Linked DNA regions of Homo sapiens. The protein of the gene in region 1 interacts with the protein of each later gene in a biochemical or structural test. Each region holds a gene or a part of one and is shown in the gene's direction. Other genes may lie near its edges.

Evidence for each region.
Region 2: the proteins of MECOM (region 1) and SMAD3 form a complex in vitro, tested with the Homo sapiens proteins (2 studies listed by BioGRID).
Region 3: the proteins of MECOM (region 1) and SMAD2 form a complex in vitro, tested with the Homo sapiens proteins (one study listed by BioGRID).
Region 4: the proteins of MECOM (region 1) and SUV39H1 form a complex in vitro, tested with the Homo sapiens proteins (one study listed by BioGRID).

The regions. Positions count from the first base shown.
Region 1 is NC_000003.12:169,660,701-169,667,597, reverse strand, and holds the start of MECOM (histone-lysine N-methyltransferase MECOM), read left to right. Parts: upstream 1-3,885; 5' UTR 3,886-4,225; coding exon 4,226-4,262; intron 4,263-6,435; exon of another isoform or gene 6,436-6,762; intron 6,763-6,897.
Region 2 is NC_000015.10:67,187,602-67,194,601, forward strand, and holds part of SMAD3 (mothers against decapentaplegic homolog 3), read left to right. Parts: intron 1-2,811; coding exon 2,812-2,935; 3' UTR 2,936-7,000. UniProt on the Homo sapiens protein: Receptor-regulated SMAD (R-SMAD) that is an intracellular signal transducer and transcriptional modulator activated by TGF-beta (transforming growth factor) and activin type 1 receptor kinases.
Region 3 is NC_000018.10:47,920,622-47,927,673, reverse strand, and holds part of SMAD2 (mothers against decapentaplegic homolog 2), read left to right. Parts: intron 1-7,052. UniProt on the Homo sapiens protein: Receptor-regulated SMAD (R-SMAD) that is an intracellular signal transducer and transcriptional modulator activated by TGF-beta (transforming growth factor) and activin type 1 receptor kinases.
Region 4 is NC_000023.11:48,706,724-48,709,558, forward strand, and holds the end of SUV39H1 (histone-lysine N-methyltransferase SUV39H1), read left to right. Parts: intron 1-713; coding exon 714-847; 3' UTR 848-2,293; downstream 2,294-2,835. UniProt on the Homo sapiens protein: Histone methyltransferase that specifically trimethylates 'Lys-9' of histone H3 using monomethylated H3 'Lys-9' as substrate. Also weakly methylates histone H1 (in vitro).

The DNA.
Region 1 (6,897 bases):
AAAGTGTGTATTTTGAAAGCGATCTCCAGAACAGTGAGTTATTGCAATGAATGAAAATTGTTTCCATTTTGGCTAATTGAGCCGGTGGCCGAAAGCTGGAGCCCTGAGACTAAATAAAGAGGACTGTTTCATTTCAACATGAAGAAACCCCTGCCTAGCTCTGGTCACCCAGCGAGAGTTTAATTTCTTAACAGCCAACCTGAAACCCAGCATTGGGTAAACAGTATTAATAATTGCATTACAATGATTAAATTAATCTTGCTGGTAGCCAGGAGAATATAGGTTGTGATTGAATAGCATGATGTAAAGTTCACTGCACAAAGACAATAGGCCTCGAAATACCTCCATAAAGAATTCAAACTTTCTTCCAAAGATACCGTGGGGCCGGTTCAATTAAAATGAGAGGAAAGGAAAACTTCCTGTTGCATGTAATGTATTGAAAATCGGTTATTTGCCATTTCTAACATTAATTTAAAAAATATAGTTGGGGAAGGGATATACTTGTCTGTGTCTTTCTCATCAATGTCCCATTTTCCTTCTAACTTCTATCTCAATCTCTTCACTTCTGCTAAACAAACAAAAACACGAAACAAAAAGTGACAGCAATAAAACAAGCAAACCCAGACAGTCTGTAAACCCATCGACTTTCCAACGAGGCACTGCTTCCAGGATGCTCGCTTCCGTGGGAGAAAACACAAGGAAACGTTGGAATGCATGCTACTGTCCCCCAAGAAAACGAATTTCAGGAGGAGAGGGAAAGGCGAGAGGTGGGGTGGGGGCGGGTAGCTAGGGCAGCTCCGCCAACTTGTTGGAGGCCTCTTTTCTCTTGGGCCAGCGACAGCTCAGACATCCCGTCAGAGGGTGTCGGGAACTCTAGGGGCTGCTGAACAGTCACCTGCTCTGGTCTCACGGCTGGGACTGGGACAGGTGGAAGTGACAGGGTCCAGGCACTTGAGAATGGGAACCGGCCGGGGCGGACGCGCAGAGGTCGCGGCGCTATCAGCCGCGAGCGCGACCGGTTGCTGCTGGGTGTTTGCTCCATCAGGTTAAACACACTTGAACTAGCAACTTAGCTCTTTATTAGCGCACACTTAGGGCAGAAAGCTAATGATAAAGAAAGAAAAAGAAAAGGAGAGAAAAGGAAAAGAAGCCCAGCTTTTAGGTTTGAAAATAAAAAACGAATGATATTGAGAATACTTTTATTTATTTAAAAGACGATGTCTTGTCTTTTCACAATGGCTTGGTCTGGGGACAGAGAAGAGTTTGCGTTTATTATTTGTTAGAAGGGGTTGGATTTTCTCGTGGCCCGAAACTGTTAGAAAGACCAGGGAGAAAGCTGGAGCGCTGAAGCGACAGCGGAGACTTCAAACCAGAAGGGGAGGGGTACTCCAGCCGCGCCTCATTCCGCCTCCCACTCCGCCAACCCCCCTTCTAGAAAAGTTTAAAAGACGGGGACCTTTAAATTTGGAGGTTCGGAGACTCCGATTCACTTCAGTCTTCCACCTCCCACCCAGTTCCCCTCACAGAACCCACCCCCTACCTCCCCAACCCTCCACGTGGTTTATAATTTCTCAGCAGCAACAGCAAGCTCAGCTTCACATGTGGGTCTTGCATTTAATCTCAGAGTTTGGTACCTTGGTCCCCTCCTTTCCTAGGAACATTTCTTGCACCCCTCTTAACCTCCCGTCTCCAAGGGAACCTAGACATAGACAGACCCCCTGGGGATGAGGTGAAAGGGATTAGCCGGAGGAGTGGAGGGGAGGATGGCGGTTCTTTTCTTTTTTCTTTTCTTCTCTTTCTTTTTTTTTTTTAAGCTACCTTGGCGGTTGGGCACCAAGGCAAGGTGCTCAGCCACCCCTGGGGTGCCTGGCAGGGAAGGTGAGGATTGGAGGGACAAGACCTAGATTTTGACAGCTGGGATCTTCAGGTGCTGCTGGTCTGTCCCCTGGCCTAGGGGATGGTCCCTAGAGAGTCTCTTACACCGATCAGAAGCAGCCTTATGAACTTCTTGCCAGTCAGCCTAGTGTTTGTCTCTCCCTAGAGATTTTGTCCCCCCTTCCAAAGCCTCTCAAGACCCATTTCTCCGTTTCCTCGGAGGACATTTGCTGGTCAGAGGGTAGGCACCTCTCCATCTAAACTGAGGGAAGCTGGTGGAGTCACATTTTGGGGGAAGTTTCAGAGTCAAAGACCTGTGTGAACCTAACAGAATGTTGGAATGGCTGGTGCTTTTGCACACACCAAATGTGTTAGCACACTCACCTTTATGCACAGGACAGCGGGAATTCTAGGTCTGGAAAAAAACCCAGGTGCCTCTTTAATTCAGAGTGGATAATAGAGTTCTCTTGTGCCCACGCGTGTGGGCACTAGAGCCTTCTCTTTTGGAAGTTGTTTTACTCCTGTTGTGAGTAATTCCCTCCTTTACCTTCCTACTTCCCTTCCTCACATTTCAACCTTATACATCTGTCTCCCTTGAGACCTGTAGCTTGGTTCTCCAGGGACCTCTATCTTACAGCCAAATGCCCCCAGAATTACACAGCTCTGGATAAAGGAAAATGGTAGGCATCCTTAACAAGGACAAATTCTTTGAACTTTGATTCTCTTGAATAAAGAGATTTGCAGGCCATTGATACCCTTTGGGGTTGAACCTTGTTATTTGCTCTCTCATGTCTGCAGTCCTAGATTTGATAATAAATACCAACAGGTACGACTGGGCATTCTCAATGATTCCCCTTTCCCTCCACAGCCTTTGCCAAACTCATGCCCAGGACCTGCTTTTCTTTTCCTTTAACTTGAACATCAAGGATGTATTGTTGCAGCACGGAGACTGAAAAGATTGTAATTTTCTTTTATGGTGTCTGGCAGGATTTGCAACAGATATTAATGGGGACATAAATAGCACATGGAAGGTATTGAACAAAACTGTTTAATGCAAGAAGGTTGTACCAAAAGAAAATCTATACCTAGTTGGGATTGATTCATACCTTGTACACAGCTAGCCCCTTTAGGAATTCCCATTTCTGAGTGGCACTTCATTGGTAAATCCTGTAATTAAAGGAAATTTCAACAATGTATTTTTTTAAGAGTGTGTGATTTTCCTCCCTACTCCTCTTTCTTTTGACCCCGAGGTTGTAGGTTTAAGCGAGTGAGTGAAAATGGCAGGCAAGCAGAGCTGCATCGGGAGGCGACCGGGGCAGCAGTGGGGGAGGCCGGAAGGTGACAGCCGACCTCTGAGAAAGCAGGAGGTCTTTGGATGTCAAATGCCAGCGCCGGCCCGGACCCGGGAATCAAGGGTGATCATTACTACTTGGTAGGGAAAGAATACTGAAATGTCCCAAGGATGGCAGCAAGCATTGGTATTACAGCTAAAATCGAGGAAAAAACCAGTTATTTATTCTGCTTACAACCCTGAAAGCGGAAGCTGCAATAGCTTCAGTAGCAGTAGCAGCGGCAGCAGTAGATTTCTCAAGTTCAGGATGATTCTCACTTTCTCCTGGATTATTAGCCGAGGGTCCAGCCCTTCTAGTTCTTTAACAGGAGAAGGGTTTTTAAAAAATGTTTTTAAAGTTTTTTTCCCCCCTGGCTTCTTGCTTCCCTCGTAGATGGTATAGAAAAATGTCTGCAATTTATGGTGGGAAAAACAATAACAATAATCATGATACAAGCTTGTTGGCGATTCTAACATGGAATCAATCCTCTGCCCAAGCCTTTTCAATTCCCCCCTCCCCTTTTTTTGGGCGAGGTGTCTGCTCCCCTCTGGCTCCCTGCGTTCGCTCCCCGCCCCCCGCCGCCCTCCCCGCGGCTCCCTTTCTCCGCCTCCTCGGCGATTGCCATCTGACAAGATCTCCAAATCAAAGTGATAAATCGCTCCAAACTTTTTTTGGCGGCGCTGAGATGTTGGAGGGGCGTCTAGCGCGCATGTGCGAAGGTGTCCAAACTGACAATGCTGGAGAGATAGCGAGTGTGGATTGAGAGAAAGGGAGAGAGGGAGGGAGAGAGAGTGAAAGAAGAAAATACAGAGAGTGAGTGTGTGGAAGAGAGAGAGAAACAGGAGAGAAACAGGAGGGAGGGAGAGAGAGAGAGAGAGAGAGAGAGAGAGAGAGAGAGAGAGAGAGAGAGAGAGAGACAGGAGAGAGAGGGAGGGAGCGAGAGGGAGAGCAAAAGAAGGAAAGGATCCAAGAAAAAAAAGCCCCAACCACACACCAGCGGCTGCAGGACTGGGCACAGCATGAGATCCAAAGGCAGGGCAAGGAAACTGGCCACAAGTAGGTGCAATATCCCTTTTCTATTGGCTTTTCCCCCTCCTCTGCCATCTTGCATATCTGTCTCTAGCGCTCCGGGAGGGAGCGCGGGCTGCCTCTTGCGCCGGGGCCCCGGGTGGAGGGCAGGCGGAGCGCAGCCCCAGCAACCTGCCGGTTCCAGTCTCTGCTCCCGGTCGCCCGCGCTCTCGCTCCCGGGTTGGGCGCCGGAGGAGCCTGGGCAGCCCTCAGTCCCGCGCACCGACCAGCTGTGGCAACCCCGGGGTGGGGGTGGGGGTGGGGGCAGCAAAGACTAGGGGTGGGAGGGAGGAGAGAGCGCGAGAGTGAGCGCGAAGGGGTGGGGTGGGGGGGAAGAGAAGAGGAGAAAGTCTCCCCCTCCCCTCCCCTTCCCCCCAGGCGGGGGAGAGTTGCCTCTGGCCAACCAGCTAGTCCCGGGTGTGGGAGGAGGGGGGCGCGGGGGATGGGGGGCCGGCAGGAGAAGGGAGCCTTTTCGAGCCTCGGTTTGTTTCTGGGGTTTGGGTAGGGTAGGCGGCTCAGAGGGAGCCACAGTGGCGGCGGCGGCGGGCGGCTGTGGTGGACTTGGGAAAAGTTGCGAGGCGGCCGCTGGAAGTTGCGCGGGCGGGCGGGTGGACTGCGCCGAGCCGCGGCTGCGGTAGTGGGCGCTGTGCGCTCGGCCATGCTCTCCGGCGCGGCGCTGCGCGGCGGGAGGACTGCGGCGGGGAGTAGGGGACACCAAGGTGGGGGCTGTGATCGCGGGGTGGGGGCGGGGGCACGGGCAGAGCAGAGCTACCGGCTCCGCACAGCCACGCGCAGGTGGGGAGGAAAGAGGCCCAGCGAGCGCTCGGACGTGGGGAGAGAAGAGGCCCAGCGAGCGCTCGGAGAGCCGGGAGTGGAGGGCACACAGCCAGCGGCGGCAGCCTAGGAGCAGGAGGCAGAGAGGGCGCGCTGCGACCCGCGCACCTCGGGCTTGCTGGGCGCCGAGCAAACCCCAGGGGGCGGGCTGCCAGAGCGTTGGGCCGCGGAGAGGGCGCAGCGCAGCCTCCGGCGCTTCGTCTGGGTGCAGCCTGGGTCCAGGGTCAATAACCCTCCCCGGCGCCCCCTGCCTGCCCGGCGCGGAGCGGCCTTGGTCTGGCGGGATGTGGGCTAAGGGGTTTGGGGAGGGGGCGGTGGGAGTCCCATCCCCCACTCTTACAGCAAAAGTGTTGGATGACTCGCCTGGCTTTGCCGGCGGGGCCCACACTTTCCCACACGGTGTGATGCTCCGCCAGGACTGTAGACGACAGGACTGCGTTTGTCCAAATGCTTCTACTTCGAGTTGAAGGGGACTCAGGGACACTGAGCCCCGGAGCGGCTGGGAGCGCTCTTCCTTGAGGTGTCAATAGGCGGGGCTGGAGCTGCCTCGGGAGTGGACAGGCCGCGGTTCTCTCTCCCACACTCGCACTCGCCGAAAACAAAACTCTCTAATTGTGTTGTTTACGGAACGCAGAAATGAGAGATCGGAGATGGGTGGGATGCTTCTCCCCAGTGAAATCCCAGTCTCCCCCCGCGCGACCCTCGCACATTAGAACCAAATACGGTAGGTATCGTATCCACGCCTCCTTGCTCACTGCGTCCCTGCAGCAGCCCGGGAAGTCGGCGGCACCTCAGCAGGCTCGGCTTCGCGGGCATTGGAGTCGGCGGTGTAGCCCCGCGAGATGCTGTCATCCCAGGCGCCTTTCCAGTGCTTTGTGCAGTCCTCACCCAAGCACTCGTACACTCCCCGATACATTTCCTTTCCCCTGGGTCTGAGAAATCAACCTAAATATAGGGCTCTTTGGGTCATCAGTCCATCTGTTTCTCTTTTGGGTGTTGTTCTTTACACTCGCTGCTACAGTGTCAAAGGGCGCCGGTGGAACTGTTTTCCCTGTTTGCTTTTAAATGAGGCCGATGTCTTTATTTTCATCTGAAGGGAAATAAATGTACATATACTTGAGGTTTGCGGGCTTCGATTTGGACTAAAGGTTGGGAGAGAGAGAGAGTGTGTGTGTGGGGGGGGGAGTTGGCGGGAGTGGGATGGTGGGTGGGGGTGGGTAGCCCTTTTCAACCATGCCTAAGTTGTGAAGTGAAAGCTTAAGGCTTCGCGCCGCAACTCACTGCCCGATAACTTCTGAAGTGAAAGCAGAACACAAAACCCTTCGAATTTTCTTGAGCAACTTTTTCAACTATTTTAATTGCCAAGCAAGACATACGATGCCGTCTTAAAATATTCCCGCACGCACAGTCCACTCAGCATCCAGAAACTGAGCCTCGTTTCCGATCTGATGATACTTGTCATTCAACTGGTGGGAGACCCATTTATTTTGTCCCCAGGGTCTCTAAGGATGCCGCTGCCGCTTTCTGATAGCTAGATCTCAACTCTTACAAACTTTTACTGAGCCTCAGATTCCCGCTTGCACTACTCCAGCTGTTGCTGCCGCAGCTGCCTTTCCCAGACAGAAGCGCTGCGTTGCAATTCTTCAGTTACAATCTGGGTAATAAAGGAAATCATATTAAAACTACAGATTTTTGTATTTTAAAGCGCGATTTCCTTCCCCCGAGTAGCGCGTGGCGGAGATGGTTGGTGACCCCTGCGGTGCAATCATCCAACGAAAACTTCACTGCT
Region 2 (7,000 bases), on another chromosome or scaffold:
AGCCCTAGCGTCAAGAGCAGAAAGACCAAAGATCAGAGAGAGGCCAAGGCCTGGCAGGCAGGAGGGGCCGGGCCAACAGCAGATGATGAGGAATTGCAGAACGATGTTTGCTGGCACCGAACAGCTGTAGGCACTGTAAACACACGCTCCATCTTATCCTCATCCCAGCCCTGGGTGGGGATGCCAGCATCATCCGTACAGATGAGAGAACTAAGGCCCAGGGAGGGAGAGTGACTTGCCTGCAGTCACACTGGTAGAAGAGCTGTGTCTAGAACTCTGCCCTCTTGGCTTCTTCCTTAGTCTCATTTTAGGCAGATGGCTTTAGGATGACCCTCTTCAGGAAGTTAGGTCTTCAGCTCATTGTTCCTCTCCTCCTCTGTTGCTCCATTTCTGACTCAGGGACCCTGGTGATGCTGAGGAGCCCAGGATATTAAAACTGAGAGTCCGGGAAGGGAGGAGGAGATTTGGGTAGTTATAAAGGAACAAAATTTTCTCGCTGAGAAATGACTTTTTTAGAGTCCTACATACTGGTTTCTTTTTCTTTTTCTTTTTTTTTTTTTTTTTTTTTGAGATGGAGTCTCACTCTGTCATCCAAGCTGAAGTGAGTGGCACCATCTTGGCTTACTGCAATCTCTGCCTCCAGGACGTGCCTCAGCCTCCCAAGTAGCTGGGACTACAGGTGCGTGCTACCACGCCTGGCTAATTTTTTGTATTTTAGTAGAGAGGGGGTTTCACCATGTTGCCCAGGGTGGTCTCGAACTCCTGAGCTCAGGTGACCCACCTGCCTCAGCCTCCCAAAGTGCTGGGATTACAGGCGTGAACCACCATGCCCGGCCCTAGATACTGGTTTAAACATGGCCCTGATATAGTCAGGTCTACCTGGTCTGCTTGGTTGAATCTCTCAGGCCATCCTGCTTTGGGTTTAGAGAATCCAGTCCCTTTTCTTTCCACTCACGGACCAAAGTTTGCGGAGAGGCAGGGCTGTGTGCCCCCGCCTTCTGCTCCACACTCCCCCCTGCCAGCCGCCAGCTCCTGCGGCAGATGCAGAGGTGCCCACATGTCAGCTAGAGCCAGCGCCTTGCAAGCTACTCTCCCTTTCTCTTCATTTTTCCAGATGTTTGGAATCCATTTTGTTTTGCAGTCATGCTGCACTCAGGCCAAACCCATTTCAATATTGGCCTTGGGCCACCGTTTGTAATGAAATCCAGATGAGCATGACTTATGGAAAGTCAGATTCTCATTAGAGGATTTCATCCTGTAAAATCCTCCTCTTCCACTTACCGTATTTTAGCTGCTGTTCTTCTGTGTCTGCCCCAGGGTGTCAGGGAACACAGCCCCTTGGTTTCTTGGGTGTCTCTGAAATCCAGGAGTGACCAGTGGAGCAATCAAAGTGGTCAGACCTCAAAAGAACTTACAACTATGTTATGGCCTGAAGAGATCAGCCCAGGCCCAAAGGTCTAGCCAGAGAAATGTTTTAAGCAATCTTTTAGCCCTGGCTTAGCTCATTTAGGGAACAGGAGTGAAAGGTTAGAAAATTAATCTTTTTTTAGTGAAGAAGGGAAATATTTAAAGATGGACTGCAGTGGAAAAGAGTAAGGGGATGTCCATTTGCTCTTCTTATACCAGACTGTAGTCTGGAGGGCCACACTCAGGTACCCTCGCTCGTGCAGACACCCCAGGGTCTGTCTGCAGGCCCATTTCTCAACCTCCCTGCTACACAAGCAAAGTAGAGGCCAAGCAAGGAGGGTGGTGCCTTCAAGACAGCAACACTGTTCCTGGTGTGGCATTGCAGCTCTCCCGCTCCAAGTGCTAGGAAGAGGCTCTTTGGTGGCAGAGCCTTTCCCTGGGGACACTATCACCACGCGGGATGTCCTGCCAGCACACCCAGTCCTCTGTGGCCCACCGCGTCACCGCTGCCTGGCAGCACTGCACAGCAGCCTGACGGGCGGGCGCGGCCCCTTCCCAGAACAGCCTTGTCGTCCTCCTGCCTCTTGGGCCAAGGAGAGTAAGGTTTCAGCTCTTCTCTCTGTGAGGTGGCTGAAAGCAGGGCCCAGGGCCCACACCTCTCACCTCCAGCTGGCACCAGCGACTCCAGCCTCAGCAGATAGCCTTTGCTCAGTGGAGGCCTTTGGGAGCCTGCCTGCAAGCTGCGTCATCAACCAGCCTGAATTTAGACAAAGTGCTTTGGGGAAAAGAAACGTGTGGTGTGCCTTGTTTTTTTCCAGTAATTGTTCCATGGCTCGTTCTGCTTGTAAGATTTTCCAAAATAAGGCCGTAGATGAGAATTATATCAGCACATTGGGAACCGAAGGCATGCGGACACTGTTGGCGCTTTGTAAAAAACACCCCTCAATCAGACAGACACACGTCATCGTCGCCTGCTGGGGCTGGGCCCAGATTTCGAGATAGGGGAGCGGCACGTGCCCGTTTGGTACAGATGGGAGCCAGGAAGCCCTTTGCTCAGGATGGAGGTCTCCTCTATTAGGGGGCCTGTTACAGTAACTGGTGGGCCTCTGGGGTACCCTGCAATTGACTTTACATATTTAACTCTTTGCCATTGACTTTACATGTTTAACTCTTTAAAGTCGACTTCCTTCCCCCTCAAGAGAACTTAATTTACTCAAAGTCCTCCCTGGGTAGAGGAGTTTGGCCGGGTAGTTTCAGCAAGTTACTGGTACCGCTTCTAGGACAGCGTCTAACAGCATCTTTGGGAAGATGACTGTCACCAAAGCAGAAAAAGCTTTCTGACTTGTGTAACCCCCTGGAGATTTTTTAAGTCCCCCACCCCACCCCTTTCCCTATTTCTTACAGGAGACAGACTGTGACCAGTACCCCCTGCTGGATTGAGCTGCACCTGAATGGGCCTTTGCAGTGGCTTGACAAGGTCCTCACCCAGATGGGCTCCCCAAGCATCCGCTGTTCCAGTGTGTCTTAGAGACATCAAGTATGGTAGGGGAGGGCAGGCTTGGGGAAAATGGCCATGCAGGAGGTGGAGAAAATTGGAACTCTACTCAACCCATTGTTGTCAAGGAAGAAGAAATCTTTCTCCCTCAACTGAAGGGGTGCACCCACCTGTTTTCTGAAACACACGAGCAAACCCAGAGGTGGATGTTATGAACAGCTGTGTCTGCCAAACACATTTACCCTTTGGCCCCACTTTGAAGGGCAAGAAATGGCGTCTGCTCTGGTGGCTTAAGTGAGCAGAACAGGTAGTATTACACCACCGGCCCCCTCCCCCCAGACTCTTTTTTTGAGTGACAGCTTTCTGGGATGTCACAGTCCAACCAGAAACACCCCTCTGTCTAGGACTGCAGTGTGGAGTTCACCTTGGAAGGGCGTTCTAGGTAGGAAGAGCCCGCAGGGCCATGCAGACCTCATGCCCAGCTCTCTGACGCTTGTGACAGTGCCTCTTCCAGTGAACATTCCCAGCCCAGCCCCGCCCCGCCCCGCCCCACCACTCCAGCAGACCTTGCCCCTTGTGAGCTGGATAGACTTGGGATGGGGAGGGAGGGAGTTTTGTCTGTCTCCCTCCCCTCTCAGAACATACTGATTGGGAGGTGCGTGTTCAGCAGAACCTGCACACAGGACAGCGGGAAAAATCGATGAGCGCCACCTCTTTAAAAACTCACTTACGTTTGTCCTTTTTCACTTTGAAAAGTTGGAAGGATCTGCTGAGGCCCAGTGCATATGCAATGTATAGTGTCTATTATCACATTAATCTCAAAGAGATTCGAATGACGGTAAGTGTTCTCATGAAGCAGGAGGCCCTTGTCGTGGGATGGCATTTGGTCTCAGGCAGCACCACACTGGGTGCGTCTCCAGTCATCTGTAAGAGCTTGCTCCAGATTCTGATGCATACGGCTATATTGGTTTATGTAGTCAGTTGCATTCATTAAATCAACTTTATCATATGCTCTTTTAAATGTTTGGTTTATATATTTTCTTTAAAAATCCTGGGCTGGCACATTGACTGGGAAACCTGAGTGAGACCCAGCAACTGCTTCTCTCCCTTCTCTCTCCTGAGGTGAAGCTTTTCCAGGTTTTGTTGAAGAGATACCTGCCAGCACTTCTGCAAGCTGAAATTTACAGAAGCAAATTCACCAGAAGGGAAACATCTCAGGCCAACATAGGCAAATGAAAAGGGCTATTAAAATATTTTTACACCTTTGAAAATTGCAGGCTTGGTACAAAGAGGTCTGTCATCTTCCCCCTGGGATATAAGATGATCTAGCTCCCGGTAGAGGATCACCGGTGACAACTATAGCAGTTGTATTGTGTAACAAGTACTGCTCCCAGCAGCAATTAGGGAGAAAACTAGTCTAAATTATTTCAACTGGAAAAAAGAAAAAAGAGTCCTCTTCTTTTCCCAGCCTTTTGCAGAACACAGTAGACAGAACTGCCACCTTCAATTGGTACTTTATTCTTTGCTGCTGTTTTTGTATAAAATGACCTATCCCACGTTTTTGCATGAATTTATAGCAGGAAAAATCAAGGGATTTCCTATGGAAGTCCTGCTTTATTCCAGGTGAAGGGAAGGAAGTGTATATACTTTTGGCAAGTCATACAGCTCAAATGTGATGAGATTTCTGATGTTAGAGGGAGATGGAGAGGCTTCCTGATGCCTCATCTGCAGGGTCCTGTGCCTCTGAAGTTCTAGCCATGAGGTTTCCAGGTAGGACAGCTGCTCCCCAAGCCTCCTGAGGACACAGGAAGAGACGGAAGGAGCACCTTGACAGACTTGTGTGAGTCTTCTCGAAGGAGGGTTGACTCAGAACCCAGAGACAATACAAAACCCCTCACTTCCTCTGAGAGGGCCAAATGCTGTGAGTCTGAAGTATGTGCCTGGTGTGAAATGATCTATGGCCTGTTTCTTACACAGGAAGCCCCCTGAACCTCCTGTACATGTGTTCATGTTCCCAGCCAGCTCTGAGACCCAGGAACCAAATATTCCATTTTGGCTTCTGCTAGAGCAGTCATGGTTCCTCTCCTAAAAGCCATGGGCAGCAGTTTCCGAGGGCCTGCATGATCCACCTGCTGCACGATCCTATGAGGGCTTCCTGTGGCACACAGCCCTCTGGGTGCTTGGGAACTAGCTTCAGGCACAGCCTGATTCTGGTGATCCAGTGATCTATGGAAGTCGTGTCTTACTCCAGGTGAAGGGGGAAAAAAAAAGCCTATACTTTGGCAGGTTATGAACTTTGAATGTGATGAAATGACACGTTTGGCTGCATTTGGATGGTGTCTTAGAACCCTCATTGCTCAGACCTGAAGGCTACTTCTAGGAGCATGAAGTTTGAGTTTTGTGTTTTTCCAAAGGATACTTCCTTGGCCCTTTTTCTTTATTGACTAGACCACCAGAGGAGGATGTGTGGGATTGTAGGCAAACCCACCTGTGGCATCACTGAAAATAAATTTGATCATACCTAAGAGGTTAGGAAATGGTGCCATTCCCACCTTAGAGTGCTACATAGGTGCTTTGGGCGTATGTAACATTAGTGTCCTTCCTTGAAGCCACAAGCTAGTTTTCTTAGTTTTAAAATCCTGTTGTATGAATGGCATTTGTATATTAAAACACTTTTTTAAAGGACAGTTGAAAAGGGCAAGAGGAAACCAGGGCAGTTCTAGAGGAGTGCTGGTGACTGGATAGCAGTTTTAAGTGGCGTTCACCTAGTCAACACGACCGCGTGTGTTGCCCCTGCCCTGGGCTCCCCGCCATGACATCTTCACCTTGCAGCTTGTGCTGAGACTGACCCAAGTGCAGCTAGCACTGGGACACAGATCCTTGTCTTCAGCACCTTCCAAGGAGCCAACTTTTATTCCCTTTCCTCTCTCCCCTCCCCACCTCGCTTCTTCCCAATTTAGTAACTTAGATGCTTCCAGCACATACGTAGGTAGCTACCCCAGCCGGTTTGGATTACAGGCCTGTGCTGGAACATCATCTCAGTTGGCCACCTTCCTGGCAGGCTGTAGACCTGACATTTTGAGACAAGCCTAGAGGAGTCAGGAGCAGGGACTTTGACTCTTAGGAAGAGCACACATGAGGGCAAGGCTGCTGGCAGACGTCTCCATTGTCCTTATGTTGTCTGTGTTGTATTTTTTTTTTTTTATTGACCATGGTGATTATTTTTTTAAACCATCGTTAATATACTGAAGTGAGCTATAGCACATATCATGTGCTTAGTTTGTTTATTTTTCTCCATCTCCCCTTGGCTTCCTAGAGTTTGGACATATTCCAGGCTAAATGCTTTTACTCAAGACTACAGAAAGGTTTGAAGTAGTGTGTGCATGGCATGCACGTATGTAAGTAATCTGGGGAAGAAGCAAAGATCTGTTTCATTCTTAGCCTCAGGCCTCATGAGGGTCTCCACAGGGCCGGAGCTCAGGTTACACCACTCCTTCGTCCTTACAGGAGATGTAGGGAGAAGAATCTGCAGGCTGCTTGTAGGACTGTTCACCAAGGGGGATACCAGCAGCAAGAGAGTGCACCCGTTTAGCCCTGGACCCTGTTTCTTACTGTGTGACTTGGCTAGAGTTGGGAGTTCCCCCAAAATAAACGTGTCCCCATTTTACCAGAACCAAACCTCAACACAGCGAAGCTGTACTGTCTTTGTGTGGCAAAGATGTTCCCTTGTAGGCCCCTTTCAGGTAACCGTCTTCACAATGTATTTTCATCACAGTTTAAGGAGCATCAGCCGCTTCTCAAGTGGGTAGGGAAAGCAGAAAAACGTACGCAAGAGGACATGGATCCAAAATGATGATGAAGCATCTCCCATGGGGAGGTGATGGTGGGGAGATGATGGGCTAAACAGGCAACTTTTCAAAAACACAGCTATCATAGAAAAGAAACTTGCCTCATGTAAACTGGATTGAGAAATTCTCAGTGATTCTGCAATGGATTTTTTTTTAATGCAGAAGTAATGTATACTCTAGTATTCTGGTGTTTTTATATTTATGTAATAATTTCTTAAAACCATTCAGACAGATAACTATTTAATTTTTT
Region 3 (7,052 bases), on another chromosome or scaffold:
CCCACCTCGGCCTCCCAAAGTGCTGGGATTACAGGCGTGAGTCACCGCGCCTGGCCGATGCATTTATTTTCAACAAATACATTTATTCATTTATTCAACAAACAGCTTTTTCTGTGTGTCAGGCTCTGGACTAGGCAATAAAGTCTCTTAACAGCAAACAAGTACACCCCTGTTCCTTAATGGAGTTAGAAAAGTGGAAACTCATGTCCCTTGCCCTATTCTCCAGTGTTTAGAGTAAGACAGTTGTTAGTGTACAAATCAAGGGCACATGCATTACTGAGCCATTCCTAAAGTGAGCTTGCCTTGCTTCCTGTAACATGTAGCAGATAGCACTAGGGAAGATGTGAAGTGTTACTCAGTGTCACTGGGAACAATCTGTGTATTTTGGGGGGACCTTGGCACCAGTTTTGCACAGTCTATACAAACTGAAGATACGGCCAGTCTTTCAGAAACATGTTTATTGCTGAACAGATGTACACTTGTAGAGCTAAGCTTCATCTGACCTTAATTTGATCACTTATTGCCCTTTAATTACAGAAGCTGGTTAAGGAAAGAAAGCAGAGTTGAATAACTCAGTGAAAGGATCGGGAATAGTGTAAAAAGTTAGTTAAACCGAGACCCAGGATTGGACAGCAGTCTCATGTAGTGGAAAGGCCTTGGGTTTTGGAATCAGAGAGCCCTAGCCTAATATTTTGTTTCTCAGTTACAATACTGGGCAATTTACTACCAACCCCAGGCCCTTGGTTTTCTGACACAAAATGGAAGTACTAACCCCTTCCTCTTATTCAGTGATCACAATTCAAGTACCTAGAACATTGCCTGAGATATAAGGGTCCTCCCAAATGATTTCTTCCTCTCTTGTAGTTGTGGGTTTGTTACTTGGGCTCTTTCTAATCCAAATGATTTGCCTACACTGTTATTATGGACCTATTGTAAAATGTATTTGAGAAGCAGACAATGAACAACAAAGGCCTGGGATAGCCAAATTGTCCCAGTCCATAGCTTAAAGCTTAGGAGAGCCTTGGAGACCCTTAATAAGAATGTGTTGGCATTTATTTAAAGTGTTTCTAACAAGCAAAGTTATCTGGCTTCTAAACCTGCACTAGATTAGAAACAAGTAGATTATGGGTACTGTGGGAGGCTTAGAGGGGGTGTGGTGGGGGCTGGGGAGTAGGATGTTAGCCTAGTGTCTCTTGTCAGAAAAAACAGATAACAGCTCGGTGAGGATAATAGAGATAATCTACAAGACACAAAAATAGTCAAAGCCTGACTAGCATGTCTGGGGCCATTGAGTGCAGGACCAGACCTGAAAGCATAGTAATGAATGTTCATCAATTAGCCTAAATCATGTTTGGGAAAATCTTTTTAAGAGTGCAATAATCTACGTAATATACTTTAGATTGTCACTCAGGATGATTAAGAAATGTTCTTAAAGGGGTTGAAGATTGTGCTATAGCTTATGGCTTATTTCATGAAAGATCACAGTAGCTGTTATGACCAAGATGTTTTTCATTTGTTTTGCCATTCAGACAGCCATTCAGATTCCAAGCTGAAAGGGTAGCCAGCAGTAAAGAAAGGCTGTTTCAGTGTGGTAGCACCCTATGTCACCCCTTTCTTTGGTGTAAGTAATTTTTTTGTCAGTCTGCAGGAGTATCATATAAATTTTCACTTGTGCTTTGACAGTAGTGTATGCTTTTCACTGTGTTTTGAGATAGAGTATGCTCGAGATTTCTAGGATAAAGCAAGAGTGGATAGTTGGCCAGTCTCTCTGTTGAGGGTTTCTTGACTCTTGTCATGTGACTTCTGCCCAGTATTAGCACTGATAATTTTTTTGATCCCCTTTCTTGTAACCTTACCTCAGGGTTACTTCTTAAACCATCTACACCATCAGATAATTATTGGTGACCTTGTAATATGTAGCCTTGGCTGTTTTTAAGAATCAGGTTTTTTTTTAGCAGTAGTACAAAAGTACTAGCCTTTTTGGTTTAAAAATGCATAGTTAGAGGCTTATTGCTTGTCATTGATCAATTTTGATCATTTTTTCAGGTTGGTGTAATTGTGATGTATTCAGTTAGGACATAATTCAATGTTGATTCTAGATTTACATCTCAAAGATAGCTCGCAGCTTCAGTTCAGCAATTTCATGTAGGGAGAATATAATTTTTCCAAGCCAGGTGGATTTAGACACTGCCTTTAGTTTGGTCAGATAGCCAGAAATATTAGGGCAATTCTGTGTCTTCTGTGCTTGCCTCACATTGTACAGTGTGAGTGGTTCTCCTTGGCTCAGTGGGTTCCTCTTATTTGTAACTGAGGCACATTGATAGGACAGGTGCTTGATGTATCTTTAGGTTTGTAGTCTTAAGAAAATAGAAATTCTGACGTGATTAATTCTTATCAAAGTTTGTGAATTTACTGTGAAATTGTCACTAATTATCCTAGGTAGCCCTGTCATTTTTCAAAATCTGGTTTTACATTGGCCTCAAGGCTGTAGAGTAGTGGAAAGCGAGGATAGACTTTAGTTGCTTCTGTTTAGTACACGTGTCTACCTTAATGTAAAAATTTGCATTTCCTTGAATAATCTACAGTGTCATACCTTCCCTCATTTTGTGGGGAAGGGGGATGTAGTTTCACATTTAATGTATTCAGTAGGAATAATCTTGGGTGAACCACTGGTATTCCATCTGTTCATTAGTTTGAGTCTCTTAAGTCAAAAAAGACTCTTGATCTGAGGAAGTAGCATAGTGAATCTGTGATCTTATAGTTTGCCTATGTTTAAAAGTAAACTACATTTTCATATGCTGCTTCAGCTACTTCCAGAAATTCTGTAGAGACATAATGGTTAAGGTCTTGTAAATATCAAGGAAACGTTCCATCCTCATCACGTCTTTCATTTCAGAATGTGAGGTGGTGAGGCCGGAGGCAGTGGCTCACGCCTGTAATCCCAGCACTTTGGGAGGCTGAGGCGGGCGGATCACTTTGAGGTCAGGAGTTTGAGACCAGCCTGGCCAACATGGTGAAACCTTGTCTCTACTAAAAATGCAAAAATTAGCTGGGTGTGGTGGCGGGTACCTGTAGTCCCAGCTGCTCAAGAGGCTGAGGTAGGAGACTTGCTTGAACCGGGGAGGCCGAGGTTGCAGTTAGCCGAGATCCCGCGACTGCTCTCCAGCCTGGGAGACAGAGCAAGACTCCGTCTCAAAAAAAAAAAAGAAAAAAAAGAAAATGTGGGGTGGCAAATCTTTTTTGCAGAGCCTCCTATATAAAATCCTCATAAATGATGCAGTGGAAGCTGGGCCCGTGAGCCTTCTGCCTTGACTTGAGTGAACTATTGAAACTCTTTTGTTGACTAGAGATACTTTATCTGTGGTAGTAAATGTAAATTTTCCTTATTGAGATCCACTTTTAAAATTCTTTTTTTTTTTTTTTTTGAGACGGAGTTTTGCTCCTGTTGCCCAGGCTGGAGTGCAGTGGTGCGATCTTGGCTCACTGCAACCTCCGCCTCCTAGGTTCAAGCAGTTCTCCTGCCTCAGCCTCCTGAGTAGCTAGGATTACAGGCATGCGCCACCATGTCCGGCTAATTTTGTATTTTTAATAGAAACGGGGTTTCACCATGTTGGTCAGGCTGGTCTCGAACTCCTGACCTCAGGTGATTCGCCCACCTTGGCCTCCCAAAGTGTTGGGATTACATGCGTGAGCCACTGCGCCCGGCCTAAAATTCTTAATAGACAGGTAGTTAGGTTGTAGTTCATGTTAGCTGATCAATTAAACTTTTTTTTAAAAAATGTTTTAGTTATCAGGAGGGTCCAGCTTTGGCCTGAGGTTGTGCATTGGCCATTTCTGCTCGAAACCAGTAGTAGTCAGACTTAAAACATGTGCACACCTGCACACACAGCAGCAACTAGAAAGCCTTTAGAGAGAAATATGCAGAATTTCGAAATGTAAAACAGATAAAAGGAGTAAAGCTGTTTTGTGGAAGGAAGAATAGGCAGTTGTTGAAGTCCTGCCTGATCAGTTTTCCTCTCATCCTCACCACCAGGAAGCCTTTGAAGCACAGCTGAAGAACAGTAGGTCTTGGAGAAATTTTTGCTGTAGACCTGCTCTATCTTAACAGGTAGCTGCCAGCCACATGTGGCTATTTAGCACTTGAAATGTGGCTGCTGTGACTGAGAAACTGAATGTTAAATTTTACTTAATCTAAATTTAGATAGCCATATGCAGCTGATGGCTACTGTATTAGACAGCACAGATACCCAAGGACATTTACATCATTGTATAAAGTTGTGTTGGGTGGCACTACTCTAGACTTTGCTTTAATTGAGCTTTTATGGCCTGAGGACCCCACTCACGTGAATTGACGTGGTATTAGTTGCTGCTTCAGAAGAGGGTCAGGATAGACTTTGGGAATTTGAAGAGCAATTAGAGTACTTGTACTTTATATTTGTGCTGATTTGAGTCTGGGCCTGTGTAGTGTTGTCATAGGTGCTTTTTTTTTTTTTTTAATAATCTGGGAATGATAAACCAATATGTAAGTTACGTGTTTACAAGTTGATTATAGAGTTGTGGATTCCACAAAACTCATTATAGGTGATAGGAATATAACTCTTAGTTAAAAAAAAAAAAATAAGTAGTCTCTTTACACAGCAGTCCCTATTTAATGTGGACTTTTGCTAAAATAATAATTTTCTTGAATTAAATTCAAGCTTGCATTAGGTTTGACAGTCCATAAAGTTGAACACATGAATGTTTTCTGTTTGCTTTTGTTTAAAAGACATGACCCATCATTCTCCATGGGGGCCGACCTAGGTTTCCAGTTGGCAGTGTCTTTCCTTACTAGCTTACGCTTTGGAGAGAACATAGTTGTAGTGAGAATTGAAAAATCTGTTTTTAAAAAATTGGGTTTTATGTATTTTAATTTTTTTGAGGTTTTCTATTATCCTGGTTACTAATGAATTATTTATTTGACTAAAACAGTTATACAATTCCAGGTCATTGATGCTGCTGTTTTTTTCTCTGCCTTGTAGTATGTTTGAACATAGATTGCTAAAAATCTCGGTCTCCACAGAGGATTGGTTCCGGGACTCTCCTGCAAGCACCAGAATATGAGAACGCTGAAGTCCCTTGTATAAAATGGTGTAGAATTTGTTTTATGCACATTTTATTGTTATTCTTTAAATCCTCTCTAGATTACTTAATATCTAATACAATGTAAATAGTTGTTATTCTATATTGTTTTAGAAATGATGAGAAAAAAGTCTGTACATGTTCAGTACAGTCACAGTTTTTTCCTGAATATTTTTTATCCATGGTTGGTTTAATCCATGTATTTGGAACCCACAGATAAGGAGGATTGACTGCACAGTGATTTTATATTATTTCTAGTGGGACCTTAGATGTTCTAGATGAGGCAGCACCATCATATTTAAAGTATTTTTGTTGAAATAATTAACTTTGGTTTTCTTTCTAAATAAAAATTCACATAGGTATTTGGGGAATATTTTGTATTTTCCTGCAGTTTGAAGATTTGAAATTTCTCTTCCCTCCATACCTTTTAAAAGTGCAATCTACTTTTGCTTTCTACATTTAATCACTATCTGTTCTTGACTTCAACTTTGCAAACATATTTTTTAACCATTCTTTTTCACATTTCCCTTCCTACTGGCCTTCCGGATGAACTGTCAAGTTTAGCAGTCTTTTCTCAGTGATCATACTTTCTTCAGTGTTTGCTGTTATTGTTTATACTGTCTTTATCTAAATTTCTTAAAATGACACAGACACAAGTTAGGCCCATTCTTCTTACTGTAAACAGATGAAAATGTTGGATAAAATATAAAAGTTTTCTCTTATGTATACAGTTGATCTTGAGAGAGAAAGTGCCCAGGTACTAGAAACTTAGAAAAATCAGTCAACTTTAAGGGAAGTGTGGCCTTGGGGGATTTACTAGAGATAAGATTCAGTAGTTGGGGCTGAGGTTATAATGCCATTCAATGAAAGGAGACAGAACTGTGGGAACTGTGTGCTTAAAAAAATTAAAAAATGAAAAGTGTTCTGGTATCATTGAAACATCTGGGGCTTCTTGGAGAAAGAAGCCTCAGACCTCTCTATGGAGGAACTGGAAAAACAGTAGGCTTTAGATGGACTTTAATATCACAGCAAGGCAAGGCAGGGTACATGAAAACATCTACAGCTGCATGTGGAATAGTGAATTTTTGTATACATAATCCATGACTGCAATCCAAAATTCAGGGATACCCAGTGAAGAGTCTCTTTACTGGTCTGTTCTTTGCCATACAGTTGCCTTTTCAAAGGCAAGTAGCTTTACTAGGTTTTTGTGTGGTGTTCCAGAGATTTTATGCATCTATGAACAATTTTGTGTGTATATTACCTTTTAGTACAAGTGGTCACATATGTCACTTAATAGTACATCTTATTTTGTGTCAGTATGTAATGAATGCCTTTCTTCTTTTTTGGAGTAGTGGGTTGTATAATATTCTTTTGTATGGGTGTCTGTAAATTTTTTTTTGAGACAGTGTCTCACTCTGTCACCCAGGCTGGAGTGCAGTGGTGTGATCACAGCTCACTGCAACCTTGACTGCCAGGGGTCAAGTTAATCTCCCACCTCAGCTACCTGAGTAGTTGGGACTGCAGGCGCATGCCTACCATATCCAGCTAATTTTTAAAATTTTTTGTAGAGGTGGGGTTTCGCCATGTTGCCTAGATTTGTCTTGAACTCCTGGGCTCAAGCGATTTGCCTGCCACGGCCCCTCAAAGTTTTGGGATTACAGGCGTAAGCCACTGTGCCTGGCCGGGTGTCTGAATATATCATCAGTCCTCTGTTGAATGTTTCCAGTCTTGTGGTATTAAAAACAATGCTACAACAAATAACTTCGTTTATATAGCATTTTGCTCCTTTGCAGGTATGTCTGTAAGATAGATTTCTAGGAGTAGTTCAAAGAATATCTACATTTGTAATTTATTTTAGAGAATGTACTTTATTCATTTTTTCGAATAACACATGCACATGGTATAAAAGTCAAGGAGAACAAAATAGCAAATAC
Region 4 (2,835 bases), on another chromosome or scaffold:
AATTCTTTAGCGGGAGCTTTAAGATGCTCTTCCTGACTCCCAGTCCCCCATTCGGACTACTAGACCCCTGCCTACCCCTCGAGTCCCCTCATTCCCAGCCCCTGAACCCTAACCCTGAGGCATTCATACCAACTTCTCCCAAGATTCCTGGAGAGTTAAGAAACTCCTGACTCCAGTCTTGACTGAGTTTCCCTCATCCCCCAGCCCCTCCCCACTCCTAGCTCCCTTTGGCCTTCTTCATCCCAAGCCTCTGGACACCCTTGTGGCCTCCAGCCAGTCCCCTCCTTGATAAGCTAGCCACCTCTGAGACCCTCAAGGGCAGGTCTTTGGCAGGAGAGTTCAGATGTACCTCTGGATGCCCAGGTGGCCCTCTATTCCTGCCCCTGCCCCCCCCCACACACCTAAAACGACCCTCCTGGTTCCTTGACGGCTCCCTGCCTCCCCCAGCATTCTTCAACCCCTGGCCTGAACAACCTCCAGTGCTGAGCCCTGGCCCTAGCCCCAAACCACCAACCCTAAGATCTCCCAACTCAAATCCCAGAGTTGCTCCCAGCCCCAAAGATCCTTGGTCTCATGGTATAAAGGGTAGTGGGACCCTTCATCCAGGCCTTCTAACAAGTCCCCTGCCTCCTTCCCTACCTTCCTCCCTCCCTCCTTCTCCCCCTCCCTCCCTGCCTCCTTCCCTCCTCTCCTCCCTGGCTGTGACTCCACAGTGGACCCCGTGGACATGGAGAGCACCCGCATGGACTCCAACTTTGGCCTGGCTGGGCTCCCTGGCTCCCCTAAGAAGCGGGTCCGTATTGAATGCAAGTGTGGGACTGAGTCCTGCCGCAAATACCTCTTCTAGCCCTTAGAAGTCTGAGGCCAGACTGACTGAGGGGGCCTGAAGCTACATGCACCTCCCCCACTGCTGCCCTCCTGTCGAGAATGACTGCCAGGGCCTCGCCTGCCTCCACCTGCCCCCACCTGCTCCTACCTGCTCTACGTTCAGGGCTGTGGCCGTGGTGAGGACCGACTCCAGGAGTCCCCTTTCCCTGTCCCAGCCCCATCTGTGGGTTGCACTTACAAACCCCCACCCACCTTCAGAAATAGTTTTTCAACATCAAGACTCTCTGTCGTTGGGATTCATGGCCTATTAAGGAGGTCCAAGGGGTGAGTCCCAACCCAGCCCCAGAATATATTTGTTTTTGCACCTGCTTCTGCCTGGAGATTGAGGGGTCTGCTGCAGGCCTCCTCCCTGCTGCCCCAAAGGTATGGGGAAGCAACCCCAGAGCAGGCAGACATCAGAGGCCAGAGTGCCTAGCCCGACATGAAGCTGGTTCCCCAACCACAGAAACTTTGTACTAGTGAAAGAAAGGGGGTCCCTGGGCTACGGGCTGAGGCTGGTTTCTGCTCGTGCTTACAGTGCTGGGTAGTGTTGGCCCTAAGAGCTGTAGGGTCTCTTCTTCAGGGCTGCATATCTGAGAAGTGGATGCCCACATGCCACTGGAAGGGAAGTGGGTGTCCATGGGCCACTGAGCAGTGAGAGGAAGGCAGTGCAGAGCTGGCCAGCCCTGGAGGTAGGCTGGGACCAAGCTCTGCCTTCACAGTGCAGTGAAGGTACCTAGGGCTCTTGGGAGCTCTGCGGTTGCTAGGGGCCCTGACCTGGGGTGTCATGACCGCTGACACCACTCAGAGCTGGAACCAAGATCTAGATAGTCCGTAGATAGCACTTAGGACAAGAATGTGCATTGATGGGGTGGTGATGAGGTGCCAGGCACTGGGTAGAGCACCTGGTCCACGTGGATTGTCTCAGGGAAGCCTTGAAAACCACGGAGGTGGATGCCAGGAAAGGGCCCATGTGGCAGAAGGCAAAGTACAGGCCAAGAATTGGGGGTGGGGGAGATGGCTTCCCCACTATGGGATGACGAGGCGAGAGGGAAGCCCTTGCTGCCTGCCATTCCCAGACCCCAGCCCTTTGTGCTCACCCTGGTTCCACTGGTCTCAAAAGTCACCTGCCTACAAATGTACAAAAGGCGAAGGTTCTGATGGCTGCCTTGCTCCTTGCTCCCCCACCCCCTGTGAGGACTTCTCTAGGAAGTCCTTCCTGACTACCTGTGCCCAGAGTGCCCCTACATGAGACTGTATGCCCTGCTATCAGATGCCAGATCTATGTGTCTGTCTGTGTGTCCATCCCGCCGGCCCCCCAGACTAACCTCCAGGCATGGACTGAATCTGGTTCTCCTCTTGTACACCCCTCAACCCTATGCAGCCTGGAGTGGGCATCAATAAAATGAACTGTCGACTGAACAAACCAAGATGTGAGGTGCTTGTGTGGGTGGGGGTTGAGGGGATAGAGGCTGGGAGCTGGGTTTGCCCAGGAACATGTTCCTCAAACCTCAGCCATTTGACTCTAATCCTCACAATTTCAGCCCCCACAGCATATCACTTACACCATCATCTATATAACATCTTGACCTAAAATAAGTTTGTTTTATACTTAAACTTTAAAATGCACTTAAGGCTGGGTGTGGTGGCTCACATCTTTAATCCCAGCACTTTGGGAGGCCGAGGCAGGCAGATCGCTTGAGCTCAGGAATTCGAGACCAGCATGGGCAACATGGTGAAACCACGTCTCTGCTAAAAATACAAAAATTGGCCAGGTGTGGGGGCATGTGCCTGTACCTGTAGTCCCAGCTACTCAGGAGCCTGAGGTGGGAAGATTGCTTGAGCCTGGGAGGTGGAGGTTGCAGTGAGCTGAGATCTCACCACTGCACTCCAGCCTGTCTGTCTCCAGAAAAGAGCCAAACCCTGTCTCAAAACAATGCAATTAAATTGACTGGTTTAGACTGGCCG